2 separate regions of the Homo sapiens genome follow, and region 1 is linked to region 2. A link means that fine-mapping ties the variant in region 2 to the expression of a gene that starts in the linked region. Tissue or cell type: whole blood. Region 2 holds a variant in brackets; the other region holds the start of a gene. All regions are shown on one strand. Distances are from middle to middle. Region 1 holds the start of RUFY3 (RUN and FYVE domain containing 3). Region 2 holds the start of UTP3 (UTP3 small subunit processome component).

Region 1 (8,412 bases), 34 kb before region 2:
AGGTTATTTCAATGGTGGTACATGTTTCCCTAAATTAAGAAAATGCAAAATGAATTTTCTATAAACAAGGCTGCTCCTCTAGCACTGACATGGCACAAGCAAAGTAAGAAAGTAAGCCACATTCTCACATCTCTGAATGTCCATTTAAGTCTCACTCCTTTTATCTTCACCCCCGCCTTTCCATGTGAGGATTCCAACTCTTAATGTAAATTAGGGTACAGACTTAAGCCAGGATATGTAATCTGGAAAAGTATAAATCTGATTAATGCTTCTGTGGGGCGGGTAGAAGGCTCAACTGAAAGAGTAATGGGCGGGGCACGGTGGCTCACGCCTGTAATCCCAGCACTCTGGGAAGCTGAGGCGGGCGATCACCTGAGGTCGGGAGTTCGAGACCAGCCTGACCAACATGGAGAAACCCTGTCTCTGCTAAAAATACAAAATTAGCTGGGCGTGGTGGCGCATGCCTGTAATCCCAGCTACTTGGGGAGTCTGGAGAGTCTGAGTTAAGGAGAATTGCTTGAACCTGGGAGGTGGAGGTTGCAGTGAACTGAGATAGCGCCATTGCACTCCAGCCTGGGCAATAAGAGCGAAACTGTCTCAAAAAAAAGAAAAAAAAGAGTGATGGTAGTGCTTTTGTTAGTCACAATCTATTAAGCATCAACAACTCAAATGTTCTCTTCCTTCTATATTCCCTACTGGTAAAGGGAACCTAGCTTCTGCAGCCAGAAGTTGGAGAGTCATCCCAGGCACTGCCTTATGTTCATTCTCCAGCCACCCAGCCCCTCAGTCATCGGGTACATTCTGCTTTTCCAGGGATTGTTCCTTTGGTGTTCACTCTTGCTACCTTAATGTGAGATTGTCATCTCTTACCCAGACCATTTTAAAAGTTATAGTTAGGGGTCCCTGAGAGCTTATATCCTTCTGATCCATTCACTACACTGTTGCCAGAGTGATCATTCCAAACACAAATCTTATTTTATGTTACTCCCAGACATAAAGCACCAGTAGCTTTTCACTACAGAATCAAGTGCAGGCTTTTCAGTATGAATAAGATTTCTACAGTCAAGCCCCTGCTTATCTTTCCAGTCTTGCTCCCTGTTGTGCCAAACAGAAGCCCTCTGTGCTCCTGTTGCTATTCCCTGGCTGGGCCAGCTCACTGTGTACTGTTTGAAATGCCCTCCCTATGTCGGTCTGGTGATCACCTGTTTATCTCTTAAGGTCTCACTTAATGAAGCCTCTCCTGACCCTTCTCCTGTGGAGTCAATCACAGGCTCTTGCCTTTAGGGGAAATCTATTTGCAATTAAACTTGTTGTAGATTTGCTGTTGGCTTTTGAAAATAAGAGTATATAAGCCGGGCATGGTGGCTCACACCTGTAATCCCAGCACTTTGGGAGGTCAAGGAGGGTGTATCACCTGAGGTTGGGAGTTCGAGACCAGCCTGATCAACATGCAAAAACCCCGTCTCTACTAAAAATACAAAAATTAGCTGGGTGTGGTGGCGCATGCCTGTAATCCCAGCTATTTGGGAGGCTGAGGCAGGAGAATCGCTTGAACCCGGTAGGCAGAGTTTTCAGTGAGCCAAGATTGCGCCATTGCACTCCAGCCTGGGCAATAAGAACAAAACTCTGTCTCAAAAAAAAAAAAAAGAGTATATAAGACAAAAGAGAGATAATCCCTCATTGACCACCAATAAGCATTGAGATAATGAAGTGAATGCTTTTATTTTCATTTATTTAAGGGTTAAAGTAGGCAGAAACTCTAGGTCCAGGCCTATACTGCGGACTGCTCAGTGAAGGGCCAGGAACTCTGGTTTTAAGAAAATAAAATATGGAAGCCACAGAGCCTCTATTGCTGAGTACACACAGTCAGTCTACATCATTTTAAGAGGGAACATTATGCTGTTTGCCTATTTTCTTTTGTGGGAGTGAGGAGACTTCACTCTAGGATTTGGGTGGTCAGATGTTTTTCCCTCTGTGAATCAGCCCGGAAAGCAGTCTGAATACTCCCGCGTCCAGACATCAGGAGTTCCATTTTGTGAACAAGGTGAGATTCACATAATCATGGGCCTGGTGACCACCACTTAAATGCTTATAGCTAAATTAAATCTAATAACTATCAGTGGTATTAACATAAAAGTGGGTATTTCTTGGGACCAAATGACTGTTTAAATATCCAGAGTTTGGTAATGGAGCAAGGCAGTAATACTCACAGGCTTTCATGGGACTATGCTTTCTTTATTTTCATTTCTAGTAATTTAAAATAATAGCTTTCTTGCCCAATTTAAGGCAAAATTCTAAAATGCACTGTCGGCATTTCTCTATTTTCTTCCAAATCCTCTATAGTTGATTACAGGTCTTGGAAACTCTGTATTTATCTGATTTCTTTAATCAGCAGACATACAATTTATTACTTAGATTATAGCTCTCACACATTTTCCATACTGAGAAATGTGTTGCTACAGATTTCTCTATGAAGAATTCAAATGGCGCTGCTAAAAACGCTTACATGAACCAAACAGCTCACTTTTGCTTATCCATAGGAATCCTGCTCCAAAAACATATATTTGAGGTGTTAAAATTGTTAAAAATTATTTTTGAGACACTGGTAAACTAGATTTCATGATAAAGGGAATATTTCATATTGTATAACTCTCAAATTGGACGGGAATACATTTTTTTCAAACAAAATATGTAAACTGAGGCAGTTGCCAGAAGACTTCTTGGTAGCCTTCTAAAACTGTATTTTTCTTCCCTAAAGACTTTTAAAGCTTTGGAGGCTGTTTTAAGTAGTACTGGAATTGTTGGATGTAACGATGTTTTGATGAAAATATAGAATAAAATAATAATAAAAAATAAATAGTACTGGCATTGCATGGAATTTCAGCTGATGTCTTATAACTTGTGCACATAACGAAACATACAGCCAAAGAAAGCTGTCTAATTAACAAACCAATTGTTAAAAGATGCAAAGGGTCTTAAAAACCACTTAAACATTGTTCTTAAAGACACACCCAAAATGACTGCTTTGTGTTCTGTGTTATTAACCATCCCTAAAACTTTCTCAAGGCTAAGGCTGACTGGGAAGATAAAATGCTTATCAAACACAATGGGAAAATTCTGAGTCATGATAAGATTTCAACTCAAGGTCAAAGGCAGAGAATCACCTTTCCTAACCCCATCTGCTAGGTACAATTCACCTATGGTCTTCTTTGTCCTGTCGATGTGCCTAACTATCAGGCAGATGTTTATAAAGAATTTCTCCTCATATGCAAGCGTTTTTTGTTTTTTTTCATCAGTATAAGGACAGAGAATAAACCTTAGCTAAGAAGCAACTGTATTAAAAACAAAACGATTTGTAGCTATGATTCAAATCAGCTCTCTTTCTGTGGTATTAAGAGAATTAAAGGGTAGAAGCAGAAAACCTCTCATAAATTAGCAAGAGTCCTGGAAAAAAGTCGCAAGTCAAGAGACCACAAAGATCTCAGAGGTACTGACAGTGGAAATCTCAAATGGATCATAATAGTTACCACAAATAATTTATAAAAAGCAATGGCCAATAGATTCCAATATTACCATTCTATTGTAATCTATAGGGATGCCATATTAATCATATTTAACCTTTCCAGGCATTATGCTTTCTTAGGAGTCCATATTCAATAAATAAATGCTGAAAAGTTATTTTCTCATCTAACCTAATAATCCATATTGTTAAAAAAATGTTTTATCAAACATTTCCTAGATGTCATAACTTGCTTAAAATTGTATCCTCATATAATGGTGAGGATACCATTACCAAATACCCTGGTGTTTCTACTGTATTCATCATGTACAATCCTATAATTATAGTCATGTTGTCTTAACTTAGTGTTATAAATCACTACAATTTCTATAACATTTTCATATATGAACAAAATTAATAGCTTTCTCATTATTGAATAGAATCAGATGTGATAAGTGACCTCAAATGTTTTATTTAGAGGCTTAAAGACAAAGAACTCTAAACGAGTATCCAGCATCTTTTGAAAGGATACCTAAAGGGGCAAGAAAAAAAATTATCTTTCCCCCATGAGCAAGAGAAGGGGAGCTGGGTGGTAAGTAAGGATGCAAGGTTTTCAGGACTGTTAACAGTTGAGAGTGTAGGTTCTTTCTACCTCTCCCTGATCCTCCCAGCCCTCCCCCATAACAATGAGGATGCTGGTGAAATACTAGCGGACAGGATCTGACCATACCTTCATGGGTAGGCTCTGGGTCAGGTGTAAGTGAGATGTCATCCAGCTCTCGCAGGCAGAGCCATTCTCCATCCATGGACACTCGGAATTTGCAAAGGTAGATGGTCTCCATGGCAGCCTGTGTGATCTTGTCAGTGGTGGGGGTTGGCATATCGGTCGGAGGCGTCAGAGCAGACATGATGACTCAGCTGGGACCACAACACACACACAGACACACACACACTCACACACACACACCAAAAAAATAAATACAACCTCCTCACCAAAAAAACCCAATACAAAGCTCTGAAACAAAGCTTTCAGGAAAAGGGTGGGGGAGGTTTAAAAAAAAAAAAAAGGAAAAATACCTTATAGGTTAAGAACAAACTGCTCAAGATAAACAATTCTACACTATCTTATAGACAGTTCCTACCACATAGCAAAATAAGATGATGCTTGTCTTCTCCCAGCTTCCTCTCCTTTTATCTTCCCTTCCCTGCCCCCCACCTTTTTTTTCAGCTGAGCTATAGGCTTTAAATCCCGCACAGCTGATGCTGCCTTAGCTGGCTTTAAAAATCTGGCCTCGATATGAGTAAGTGAAAAATCCTCCTCCTTTGTGCAGAAAAAAAATATAAAAGAAAAACCTGAACAAAAAATAAACCTATATTTTCAATGTAGCTTAAAAAAAAAATCCTGAGCTGCAGAAATCACTTCCAGGATCTGCTCAGATGAGCTGGGATGCTGAGTTCTCATAGGATTGGCCGTGCGCAGTAAGCAGGGTGTTGACCAAAATGGCTGACTAATGAACTGAACTGAAAATTCAGGCTCATGTGACCAGCTGCTCTGAACGTAGGGCAAGCAATTCCCAGGATGCTTTATAGATGCTGCTGATGCTGGGAGAGCAATTAGGCTTCTCTCTCTCATCCTGTACAACCCACTTCCAGACTGTGCTAGTCAAACTGTGATCAGACATAACACAATGCACATATCCTCATCAATTCTTCTTACTTTGGGATCAAGGACTGAATAAAAGGATGACAATTAATACCGGATAATAATCTATAGTAAAGATGGTAAAAGAGGCAGTTAGATTAATTTAACAAGCATATAATTCACCTCTTTCATTCTTATCTACATAGCTATTAAAATTCTTTACTATGCTAAATGTTATGTTTTAAGAAAAGCTAAAGCATAAAAAATTGAGGTTCTCAGAGGGAAAAAAAACAAAAAGATAAAAAGAAAAGCTAAAGTAGATTTTCAATTTAAATATCTTATTCTTGGGCATTTATAATTTCCTTCTCCAAGGTACAAAAACCTGACCTTTTAGGTTAGGCAGAAATGCAAAAAAAAAACTTCAAGTTAAAAAAGTAAAATCTTTCCCAATTAATGGCAATTTCCCCCCTTTTTGATTTTGTTGTATTTATCAAGTTTCTGTATTAAGCATAAAATACGTTTCTTTTTTTTTCTTTTTTCTTTTTTGAGACAGAGTCTTGCTCTGTAGCCCAGGCTGGAGTGCAGTGGCGTGATCTCAGCTCCCAGGTCCAAGCAATTCTCTGCCTCAGCCTCCCGAGTAGCTGGGATTACAGGCACCCACCACCACGCCCAGCTAATTTTTGTATTTTTAGTAGAGACGGGGTTTCACCATCTTGGCCAGGCTGGTCTTGAACTTCTGACCTCATGATCCTCCCACCTCAGCCTCCCAAAGTGCTGGGATTACAGGCGTGAGCCACCATGCCCAGCCTTAAGCATGAAATATGTTTCTAAGCAGATTAAACCATGTTATATTTTTAAAATCCTCCCATTCGATAAGATACTGAAGACAATTATATTTTCTTAATACACACACACACACACACACACACACACACACACACACACACACACGGCCCTATATTATCCAATGAGGCATTTATACCTTGGTAGCAAAAGGGCAGGTACTTGCTTTATGAACTACATAAATTACAAAGAGAAGAATAAGAATTTTCTTTGAAAATGTTTTGGACAATTGAAAGAAAGTGTTTGTTTGTTTTTGTATTGAAGGGTTCCAATTTTAAGGAGGAACATACAAATTCAAGAAATATGACCTGAGACTATTCCTTTCTAGGGATTGTTATCAGAGGGACATCTTGATTTACCTAATTTCTGAAAACTAAAAAAATTCTCCTTGAATATTGTTAAAATCTCAAATGCTTCATCATAATTTGAGACTGAACTGAAAGAAAAAAATGCTAATAATCAAATTCTGTAGAGAAACTGGCATTTTCATATTGTTACGAAGACAGGGCGGATGGCTGGGCGCGGTGGCTCATGCCTATAATACCAGCACTTTGGGAGGCCAAGGCGGGCAAATCACCTGAGGTCAGGAGTTCGAGACCAGCCTGGCCAACATGGTGAAACCTCATCTCTACTAAAAATACAAAAATTAGTCAGATGTGGTGGCATGTGCCTGTAATCCCAGCACTTTGGGAGGCTGAGGCAGGTGAATGGCTTGAGCTCAGGAGTTTGAAACCAGCCTGGGCAACATGGCAAAACTCCATCTCTACAAAAACAAAAATTAGCAAGGTATGGTTGCGCGCACATGTGGTCCTAGCTACTTGGGAGACTGAGGTGGAAGAATCACGTGAGGCCAGGAGGCAGAGGCTGCAGTGAGCCGAGATCATACCACTGCACTCTACCCTGTCTCAAAATAAAAAAAAGAAGGAGGGTATACTGGTACAATGTAAGAAGGCATATATATAGGCTTATTTATAATTGGGGAAAATCAGTAAGTTACTAAGGAAAGCAAAATACTCCTGGTTTTATTTCTATCTCATTCTCTCTCATCATTACCCTACATCTAGACTCAGAGCCATTCATTCATTCATTCATTCAACAGATATTCACTAAGAGGTGCTCCACATGCCAGGTAGTGATCCAGGCACTAGGCACGCAGCAGTAAGACAGAAACACCTTTTCCAGGAAACAGAATTTTCATATCCAAATACTGAACACAAGCCTTCATTTAACACATTCTCATTTAATTCAGTTCAATTCCTTTCTAGCCAAAAATATTCCCATATTATATATTAATAAGGGGACAGTTTATAGATTCACTTTATATCATGCAATACTTCAAAACATAGTAAGTAGTCATTAAAACCTTCAAATTACATGGGACATTCCTGGAACCACAACTCCAAACAGCCCTAGCTATCTGTATGTGTGATATCAAAACTCTAGATCACTGATATGTTCTTAAAACAGAACAAGGAATACATGAATAAATCCGAATGCCATGTGATTGTCTGGGGTCCAAAACCTGAATTTGGCCTTGTCACAAACCACAACAATCTCTTCACCCCAGTAAGCATTTACTAACTTGAACAGATCTAGATTGATTGCAACATACCAACACAACAGGAACATCAAGGTTAGTGAGCAAGAAACTTGATTAACATTCCTTCGGAAGATCCATCCCACCCTGCCTCTCTCCAGGTAGAGGACACAGAGAGGCAAGCCCAAAACAACTAAAGTTTTTGGCAAGGAAAGAAAAACATGCCTGTATTGGTATCCTTGAATTTCCCAGATCTACCAGTTTGAGGTGTTGGCAGCCATTTCAGAAATAAGACCCGGGGGTGGGCAAGAAAAACTGTACTTCTACGCTGTTCTTTAGGTAAACACCATTGAGTCTTCAGCACGAACAGTTATCCATTGTTCACAGGCAAAGAAGTTACTATGAAAACAGTGCTATTTGTAGAAACTTATAAAAACAATTCTACGGCCGGGCACGGTGGCTCATGCCTGTCATCCCAGTACTGTGGGAGGCTGAGGCAGGCGGGTCACCTGAAGTCGGGAGTTCAAGACCAGCCTGACCAACATGGAGAAACGCCATCTTTACTAAAAATACAAAATTAGCTGGGCGTGGTGGCACATGCCTGTAATCTGCTACTCTGGAGGCTGAGGCAGGAGAATCGCTTGAACCTGGGAGGCGGGGGTTGCAGTGAGGTGAGATTGCACCACTGCACTCCAGCCTGTGAAACTCCGTCTCAAAGAAAAAAAAAAAAGATTTTAGATATTGCTTAGTACCGTTTTTACATTTTGGTCTTTACTAAGTAAACATCTTAGCTTTGAATATGAAGTTAAAGTTAAGCCATCAGTAAGATATTCAAACCTTGATTTTTTTTCTCACATACAGAGTAATTACTGTATGAGCTGTATTGAACTA
Region 2 (8,412 bases):
GCACTTTGGGAGGCTGAGGTGGGTGGATTACCTGAGGTCAGGAGTTCAAGACCAGTCTGGCCAACACAGTGAAACCCCATCTCTACTAAAAATACAAAAATTACCTGGGTGTGGTGGTATACACCTGTAATCCCAGCTACTCGGGAGGCTGAGGTAGGAGAATCACTTGAACCTGGGAGGCAGAGGTTGCAGTGAGCCTAGATTGTGCCACTGCACTCTAGCCTGGGTGACAGAGAAAGGCTCCATCTCAAAAACAAACAAACAAACAAACAAAAAAAACACCAAAAAATGGCCAGGAGCGGGTGGATCGCTTGAGGCCAGGAGTTCGACTGGGACTGTAGTCTCAGCTACTCCGCAGGCTGAGAGGCAGAATTGCTTGAACCTAGGAGGTTGAGGTTGCAGTGAGCTGAGATCACACCACTGCACTCAAGCCTGGGCGACAGACTGAGACTCTGTCTCAAAAAAAAAAACAAAAAACAAAAAACAAACAAACCCCCTGCAAAAGATCCAACCCGGCAGTCTAACTACAGTCTGTTCTTAACCACTGACTTATGGCTTCTCTGAGGTAGGTATAATAACAGAGACTCATACAGATGAAGAAAATGAAACTCAGAGATTAACTGAAAATCATCCTGTTAACTCCAAAACCTGTATTTTTTCTATTATATCAAAAAAAAAAAAAAAAAGGAAGTATAGAATTGGGTTCTGAAGCCATAAAGGCTGGGTTGAAATCCTGGCTCTGCCACTTAATAGCTGTGTGACCCTGAGAAAGTTACTTCTCTTTGCCAGTTTCCTTATTTTCAAAATATGGATAACAGAATTTACCACATAAGGTTATGAGAAATAAGGAAATAAGCACAAAGTGCTCGGAAAGTTACCTTAGTAAGCACTGTTATTTCTATTTCCAACCTACCTCTTTTATTTATAAGGAAACAAAATAATTTGTCCTGTGTGCTACTCTGAGGAAGCAGCTGTAAGCCAGAGGTTAAGAGAATGAATGCTCAAGTTGGTTTGGGTTCAGATTTCAAGCAGATGTCCTTTAGAAAGTCAACCTTCCAAAATTTCAGCATCCTCATCTGTGGAGCACAGTATCACCTTGCAAAGTTATTGTAAAGATTAAATGAGGTGATGTACAACTAGCACATGGCAAGTGTTCCATAAATATTAACCAAGCGTCATCTCTGCATCTCTAGCAGCTAGCACAGTGTTTACTGAATAAACAGTGACACAATTAGGAAATTAGGACTTTTTTTTGTGGTTTCCTTCACTAGTCCTCTCATTTTCTTCCCTGGCAACATCCTATTTTTACATTTACCACCTCAACATCTTCCCCCTATTTAAAGACCAGTGTAGCAGCAAAGAAAAATGGCTAATGTTAAATGACGAGTTACGGGGTGCAGCACACCAACATGGCACATGTATATATATGTAGCTAACCTGCACGTTGGGCACATGTACCCTAAAACTTAAAGTATAATTAAAAAAAAAAAAGAAAAGAAAAATGGAACATTGAGCTGGGCGTGGTGGCTCACACTTGTAATCCCAGCACTTTGGGAGGCCGAGGCGGGCAGATCACTTGAGGTCAGGAGGTCGAGACCAGCCTGGCCAAAATGGTGAAACCCTGTCTCAACTAGCAATACAAAAATTAGCTGGGCGTGGTGGCAAGCACCTGTAATCCCAGCTACTCAGGAGGCTGAGGCAGGAGAATCGCTTGAACCCGGGAGGTGGAGGTTGCAGTGAGCTGAGAGATCCTGCCACTGCACTCCAGCCTGGGCTACAGAGTGAGACTTCAATCTCGAAAAAAAAAAAAAAGAAAAATGGAACTTTGTTGCCACTTAAAGTTACCACTTACCTGGTAGTAATCATATCAAAGTTTTAGCAAATGGAGTGCAAGTACAAGCAGCAACCACTGCAAATCACCAGTAAAGAAGGGGAAATGGGATTTTTACCTTATTTGCCACATGAAGAACTATGAGAAAATATTGACAATTGATGTAATTAAGGCATATCTTTTCCTTTTTCTGCTTTTAACCAAAGTTTCATTCCTATGCTTTTAAACCACACAGAACATATGAAATCCATGTTAACATTAAGCCCATTTATTAACAAGTATCTGGCCCAATAATTATAGTTAGGTAAATAAAATACTTCAGAACTATTTTATAGGCTGCCTTACAAATAAGATAACTGTCAAAGATGCATTCTCTTTATGTGAAAAGTTACACATGTTCTAAGTTTAACACTCCACAATGAACTGTGAAATTTCCCTAAGCTAATACTTAATATTGGAAAACTTCAACAGAATATTGGAAAACTTCAACATCATCTCTTTTCTCAAGCACCTTCATATTGCTCCCATAGTTCTTATAAATTGTCCAATAACCCAGACAAATTTCCTTGTGGACAAGAATTTTTAAAATTTAAAGTATTATATATTAATACAATGACTTTAGTTAAAAGTAAAAATTTATTGATCCAAAACTGCCAAAAACCTTATGCTAAGCAAAAACTTCATTTAAGCTTAATGCTCTTTTTAACTCCTGCACGAATGCCAGATAATTCACCACTATAACGTTGCTCTTCTTTACGAACTTCACGAACCTGGCCTCTTCTTCTAATTTTGGCTCTTCTGAACTTCTCTCTGTGTTTCACTCTGGGATTGCGATCAATCTTCTTTCTCCTAGGAGTAAGTCCCCTATTTTTAGCAATTTGATAGGTAATAGCTCTCTTTGCATTTTGATCTTCAAGAGCCTGTTCTTCAGTGCTATTTTCTTCTTTCTTTCTCTTTAGCTTTTGCCTGTCTTCTATTTCTTTATAGTACTTCAGTTTTGCTTTTTCATCAAAATCAGAATCATCAGAAAGATCTGTAACAGCACAGGCAGCAGCAGAAGTCTTTGAAACAGACTTTGGTTTGGGCTTGGTGGATTTTGCTTTTGGAATCAGTTCTTTCTTTACAGCATCATCCTTAAGTGTCAACAGATGACGAATTTCTGAGGACAGCTTCTGATCCACAACGGACAGCTTGTTGATCAAATTTCGGTAGGTAACAAGCCTTTCTATGACAGGATGTCCATGTGCTGGGACTCTCCTAGCTTTCAGGATCAAATAAAAACTGATGTTCGAGCAATAATTCAAGTAGAGGTTGTACTTGGTCCTCAAGTATTGGCTTCCTTTTCCGGGTGGAATGATCCCTTGTTCCACCAACTCTAACAATGGCTCCAGCTCATCCTTAACCTCTGTCAACTTGACTTTCAGGTCTTCTATCAGCTCCAAGAGTTCTGGTGATTCCTTTCGCAACATTTTCAGCTTCTCTTTCACTGAAACTTTAGCCAAATCCTTCACGACCCGTGTCTCAGCCTCATCTACCTGAGGCACTGGTTTTGCAAAGGCCTCAACCCAGGCGACACCAAAATCATCCTCTTGCAGCGCTTGGGCTAGGCGCCGCTGAATGATCTGTGCCTCCTCCTCCTCCTCTCTTTCCTCCTCCTCTGCCTCCTGTTGACTCTGCCGGCCTCGGGACTTGGAACCATAGTCCGTGTCATAGTAAAGTTTTTTCCTCTGACCCCACGACAAACTGGGATCCACAGAGGCCTCAGCTTCACTTTGCACGGAGCTCCCACCATCATCATCGGCATTCTCCTCCTCCTCCTCCTCCCCCGCATTCCCTCCATCTTCGTCGTCCTCATCGTCCATATCTAGGGCTAGCACCTCCTCCTCCTCCTCCTCGCCATCCTCCTCGTCTCCACTCTGTACTTCATTCCAGCCCTTAGCTAAGGCGGCCCGGGATCGTGCCTCATGAAAGTCATCTACCTGATCTTGGTAGTAGCTGGTGTCCCCTGGTGAGGGTGGCAATCCTAAATCATCTCCATTTTCGTCGGTGAGCGTGGGACCTGCCTTGGCTCGCACAGCTGCCCACTTAGCTGCTCCGCGCCGCCGGGATCTCCCCACCATGGCTCACAATCTCAGGTTTTACAGCGACTCCGGACTTTCGGCCACCACTGACTTCGGCGCAGGAATCAGGCGCTCCGGTAACTCGTGGCTCTAAACAGCAGCGCGCTCCCCTACCACCGGAGTTTGCAGACTCCTGATCGGCTACTGG[A/C]ATTTCCTCTTCCTTCCGGCCCCCAGCATGCTCTCCGCGTGGCGTACGATTGAGGACTTCCGCTCGGTCCCTTAGTCGAGATCACGTTGATACCAACTTCCTTTTCACTGTGCCCTTTAACGCCAGTCGATTCCGGTGAATTAAAATCTTTCCGTGTGGAAACGATAGGATAAGGAAGTTCCGTTCCACAGAACGCTTTCTCGGGCTAATGCGCTTACTCTCGAGTGCCTGGGAGTGGCTGGGGGACGGAATCCTGACGGCACCTCCAGGCGAGGTCCCGATGGCCAATAGAGGGCGCTGCGCTTTACGCCCCGGAGAAGTCCCGGGGGCGTTCCATTGAGGTTTAACTGCGTGTGTACCCGGCGCTTGCGACCGGCAGTCTAGTGCTAGCGTAGTTTTCCTGCTCCCTTGTTTTCTCTTTTCTGCTTATCAGGCTGGAAGTTAATCAGATTGCTTTCCTCTCATTTCACCCCCACCCCCAATACCATATTTCTGGGTACCACAGCCTCAGGCAGCGCCGCTGGACTCCAGAATCCCACGGGAGGTTTCCGGGCGAGAGCGCAGGCCGGGCCTCCGGCTCGGGTTTACTCATCCCCATCGCCCTCTCCCTGCTCACAGGGCTCGGTGACCCGCTCCATGGGGATCGATAAAGCTAGATGACCCCGAGGCTGACAGTGGGAAGGCAGAGCCCCGCTGCAGGGTCTGACTCTTCTCAAGGAAGTCTGCCCTGTAATGTTAGAGTAATTCAGGGTGTAAGTTTTTAGGCATTACATATGTAAGGTTCAGGGTTAGTATTATTATACCTTTTAATGTAGGTAGTTGGAAGCTGAACTTTTGATACGTTGCTAAAATTAATGGTGACATGGCTGGGCGCGGTGGCTCATGCCCATAATCCTAAGCACTTTGGGAGGCCGAAGTGGGTGGATCACTTGAGGTCAGGAGTGCAAAACCAGCCTGGCCAACATGGGGAAACCCAGTCTCTACTACAAATACAAAAAATTAGCGGGGCGTGGTGGCGGGTACCTGTAATCCCAGCTACTCGGGAGGTTGAGGCAGGAGAATCACTTGAACCCGGGAGGCGGAGGTGGCAGTAAGCCGATATCGCACCACTGCACTCTAGCCTGGGCGACAGACAGAGACTCTGTCTCAAAATAAATAAATAAATAAATAAAATAAAATTAATGGTGACAATTTCTTTTTCTTTTGTTTTTTGTTTCTTTTTTCTTTTTCTTTTTTTCTTTTTTTTTTTTTGAGACGGAGGCTCGCTCTGTTGCCAGGCTGGAGTGCAGTGGCAATCTCGGCCCACTGCAACCTCCGACCCCCTGGTTCAAGTGATTCTCCTCCCTCAGCCTCCCGAGTAGCTGGCATTACAGGCACGCGCCACCACTCCCAGCTAATTTTTGTATTTTTAGTAGAGACGGGGTTTCATCATGTTGGCCAGGATGGTCTCCATCTCCTGACCTCGTGATACGCCCGCCTCGGCCTCCCAAAGTGCTGGGATTGATTACAGGCGTGAGTCACCGCGCCCAGCCAATGGTGACAATTTCTTTTCAGAAAGTATAGTGTCATTAGGTTAATAAAAATAATGCAAAATGTTAGAAAAGTGATACTTTGAAATAAACATTTTCCAAGTGCCTAAAGGTGTCCGAAACATTTTGAAATTTTTACAAGATTTTAGAAAATAAAATTAAATTAGAAAGTTGTGGGCAAAAGTTATGTTCTGATGGTAAGCATGAATTTATTTTTTAATGTAAATTTTAGTACATTTTGTCATTTAGCAGATATTAACTGCTTACTGTTTGTTGTAGAATGCTACAGACAATAGTGATGAATCAGCCAGTTAAGGACTGTATAATCAGGTAGAAAAGAAGACACTCATACAGATTACTGGAATACAAGGCAGTGTATGATGTAAACCCGGTGCTGTAAGAGAACAGAAGGATAAGAGATAACCTTTAGATTGCTGTTTTGGGAATATTGCTTAAAGAATATGACATCTATGCTGGAATTGTAGTTATTTCCTTACTTTAAATGTTAAATTTTCATTATTTAAACACTGTTGCATTTAGGCACATAAATAAAAATTTTTCATTTTTATTGCAAATTATTTGAGAATTTAGTGTCAGACTTCAAGACTAAAATGCATATACTATTATATATAAGTTAGAAAAATATTTTGGATATTTTAAATGGGAATGATCACATTAATATTATTTAGTTTATACTAAATGTTAAATTTCCTAACCAGAACAGAGTTGCAGTATTCAATGCATATTCAGAGAGTATCGTATTCTAACATTCTCAGATCCTTTGTTTTTAGAGACAGGTGCCTGCTGTGTTCCCCAGGCTGGGTAGAACTCCTGGGCTTAAGTGATCTCCTGCCTCAGCCTCCTGAGTAGCTGGGACTAAAGGTGCGTGCCGCTTCACCCAGTTTTTCAGATCCTTTTGATAAAGAACAATTGATTCTCCTGCCTCAGCCTCCCACGTAGCTGGGATTACAGGCACCTGCCACCACACCTGGGTAATTTTTTTGTGTGTTTTTTTTTTTTTTTTTTTTAGTAGAGATGGGGTTTCACCATGTTAGCCAGGCTGGTCTCAAACTCCTGACCTCAGGTGATCTGCCCACCTCAGCCTCCCAAAGTGCTGGGATTGCAGGTGTGAGCCATCGCACCCAGCCAATCTGAATCTTTATTTTATTGTGATGTCTGGCTCAGGAGTTAGCAAGTTACACTAATGAGAGCCAGCAGGTTAAAAAAAAATTGTTTTTGCCTTACTCTAAGCCCTTTATGGGATTTTCTTACTATGGAAATTAGGGAGTCTATGAATGACACATTAGGTGATGATACATTAGGATACTTCTTTCAGGGCATTTATTCTGGGTGTTGGAGGTATTGTATGATCACATTAGCTTAAACTAATCTTTATTTCTTCCTGGACTATTGAAACAATTATAATTAATAATAGCTAACATTGAGAGTGGTTATTGTGTGCTAGATACCATTACAAGCTCTTGAAACCATTATAACCCTGTGAAAAGTTACTATAATAATCTGTAATTGGAGATGAGAAAATTAGGCGCATATAGCTTAAGTGAGGTCATAAAGCTAATAAGTGTTAGAACTAGATTTAAACTAGAACAGTCCAGCTTCAGAATCCATGTTGTGCTATAACTAACTACTATACTATACTGGCTTTCAACTTTTCCTTTAATAGGTCTCCTCCTTTTAGTCTCTGGTACATTTGATCTGGTACATCAGATATATCTTCCTAGAATATCATTTCTGTCACCGCATATCCTGGTTCAGAAACTTTCATTTACTATCCAGATAGTAAAAACTTTCGTTTACTAACAAAATTTACAGCATACATGGCTGTCCTAAAGTTTTACCCCAAAACAACCTTTCCAGTCATACCTTTCATTACTACAAAAACCTTCAATGCTAAGCTAAGTACTCTACTATGCTTTATTCTCATTTGTCACTTTACCAATCTTCTGGGTGTTCAGAATTACCTGTATCAGAAATTTATAAATCATTGCAGATATCTTTTTGGTTAAGAAATTCTCACATAAGCCCATCCATAAGGGGACCTGTGCGAAGCTATTTGAAAAGTTATTTTTGGTAGCAGCGAGTTAGAGACAACCTGGATATCCGTCACTGGAAGAGCAGATCAATAAAATGTTGTGGAAGAACAGCATGGAATTTAGGAGCATAGGGTGATCATACATTCTGGCTTGCCCTGGATGGCCCTGTTTAACCTGTTATCCCAGTGTAATTATTAATAGCACCTCCTTTCACTCTCATGATTAAGATGATAATTTTTTTTTTTGAGACAGAGTTTCACTGTTGTCACCCAGGCTGGAGTGCAATGGTGCGATCTCAGCTCACTGCAACCTCCGCCTCCCAGAGTCAAGAAATTCTCCCACCTCAGCCTCCCGAGTAGCTGGTATTACAGGTGCCTGCCACCACGCCTGGCTGATTTTTGTATTTTTAGTAGAGACGGGGTTTCACCATGTTGGCCAGGCTGGTCTCGAACTACTGACCTCAGGTGATCCACCCCTTGTCCTCCCAAAGTGCTGGGATTACAGGCTTGAGCCACCATGCCTGGCTAAGATGATACATTTTATAGTGATTTTAACTATATAGTAATTGGAAGCAGTAGATTATATATCCATATGGCAACATGAATGGATTTTTAAAACAATGTGCTAAGGGAAAAAAGTAAAAAATAGAATGTAATAAATAATATACCATTCACAAAAATTAAAAATGCAGGCACAATAATGTAACAATACACATTTTGTAGGAATATAA

The links. PIP is the estimated chance that this variant, and not a neighbour inherited with it, causes the effect.
Region 1: it holds the start of RUFY3, and the variant in region 2 is fine-mapped to the expression of RUFY3 in whole blood (TOPMed, PIP above 0.99).

Annotation. Positions count from the first base shown.
Region 1 is chr4:70,718,569-70,726,980 of GRCh38, reverse strand. RUFY3 (RUN and FYVE domain containing 3) reads right to left here and starts at 5,017. Exons shown (of 18, transcript NM_001037442.4): 1 at 4,230-5,017. The coding sequence starts at 4,407.
Region 2 is chr4:70,684,217-70,692,628 of GRCh38, reverse strand. UTP3 (UTP3 small subunit processome component) reads right to left here and starts at 4,097. Exons shown (of 1, transcript NM_020368.3): 1 at 2,078-4,097. The coding sequence starts at 3,951. The coding sequence ends at 2,512. LOC101927297 (a long non-coding RNA gene) reads right to left here. Exons shown (of 4, transcript XR_938860.3): 4 at 5,813-6,022. RefSeq lists enhancers at 3,972-4,031, 3,233-4,201, 4,732-4,821, 4,202-5,172. The variant A/C (reference allele first, on the strand shown) is at 4,100.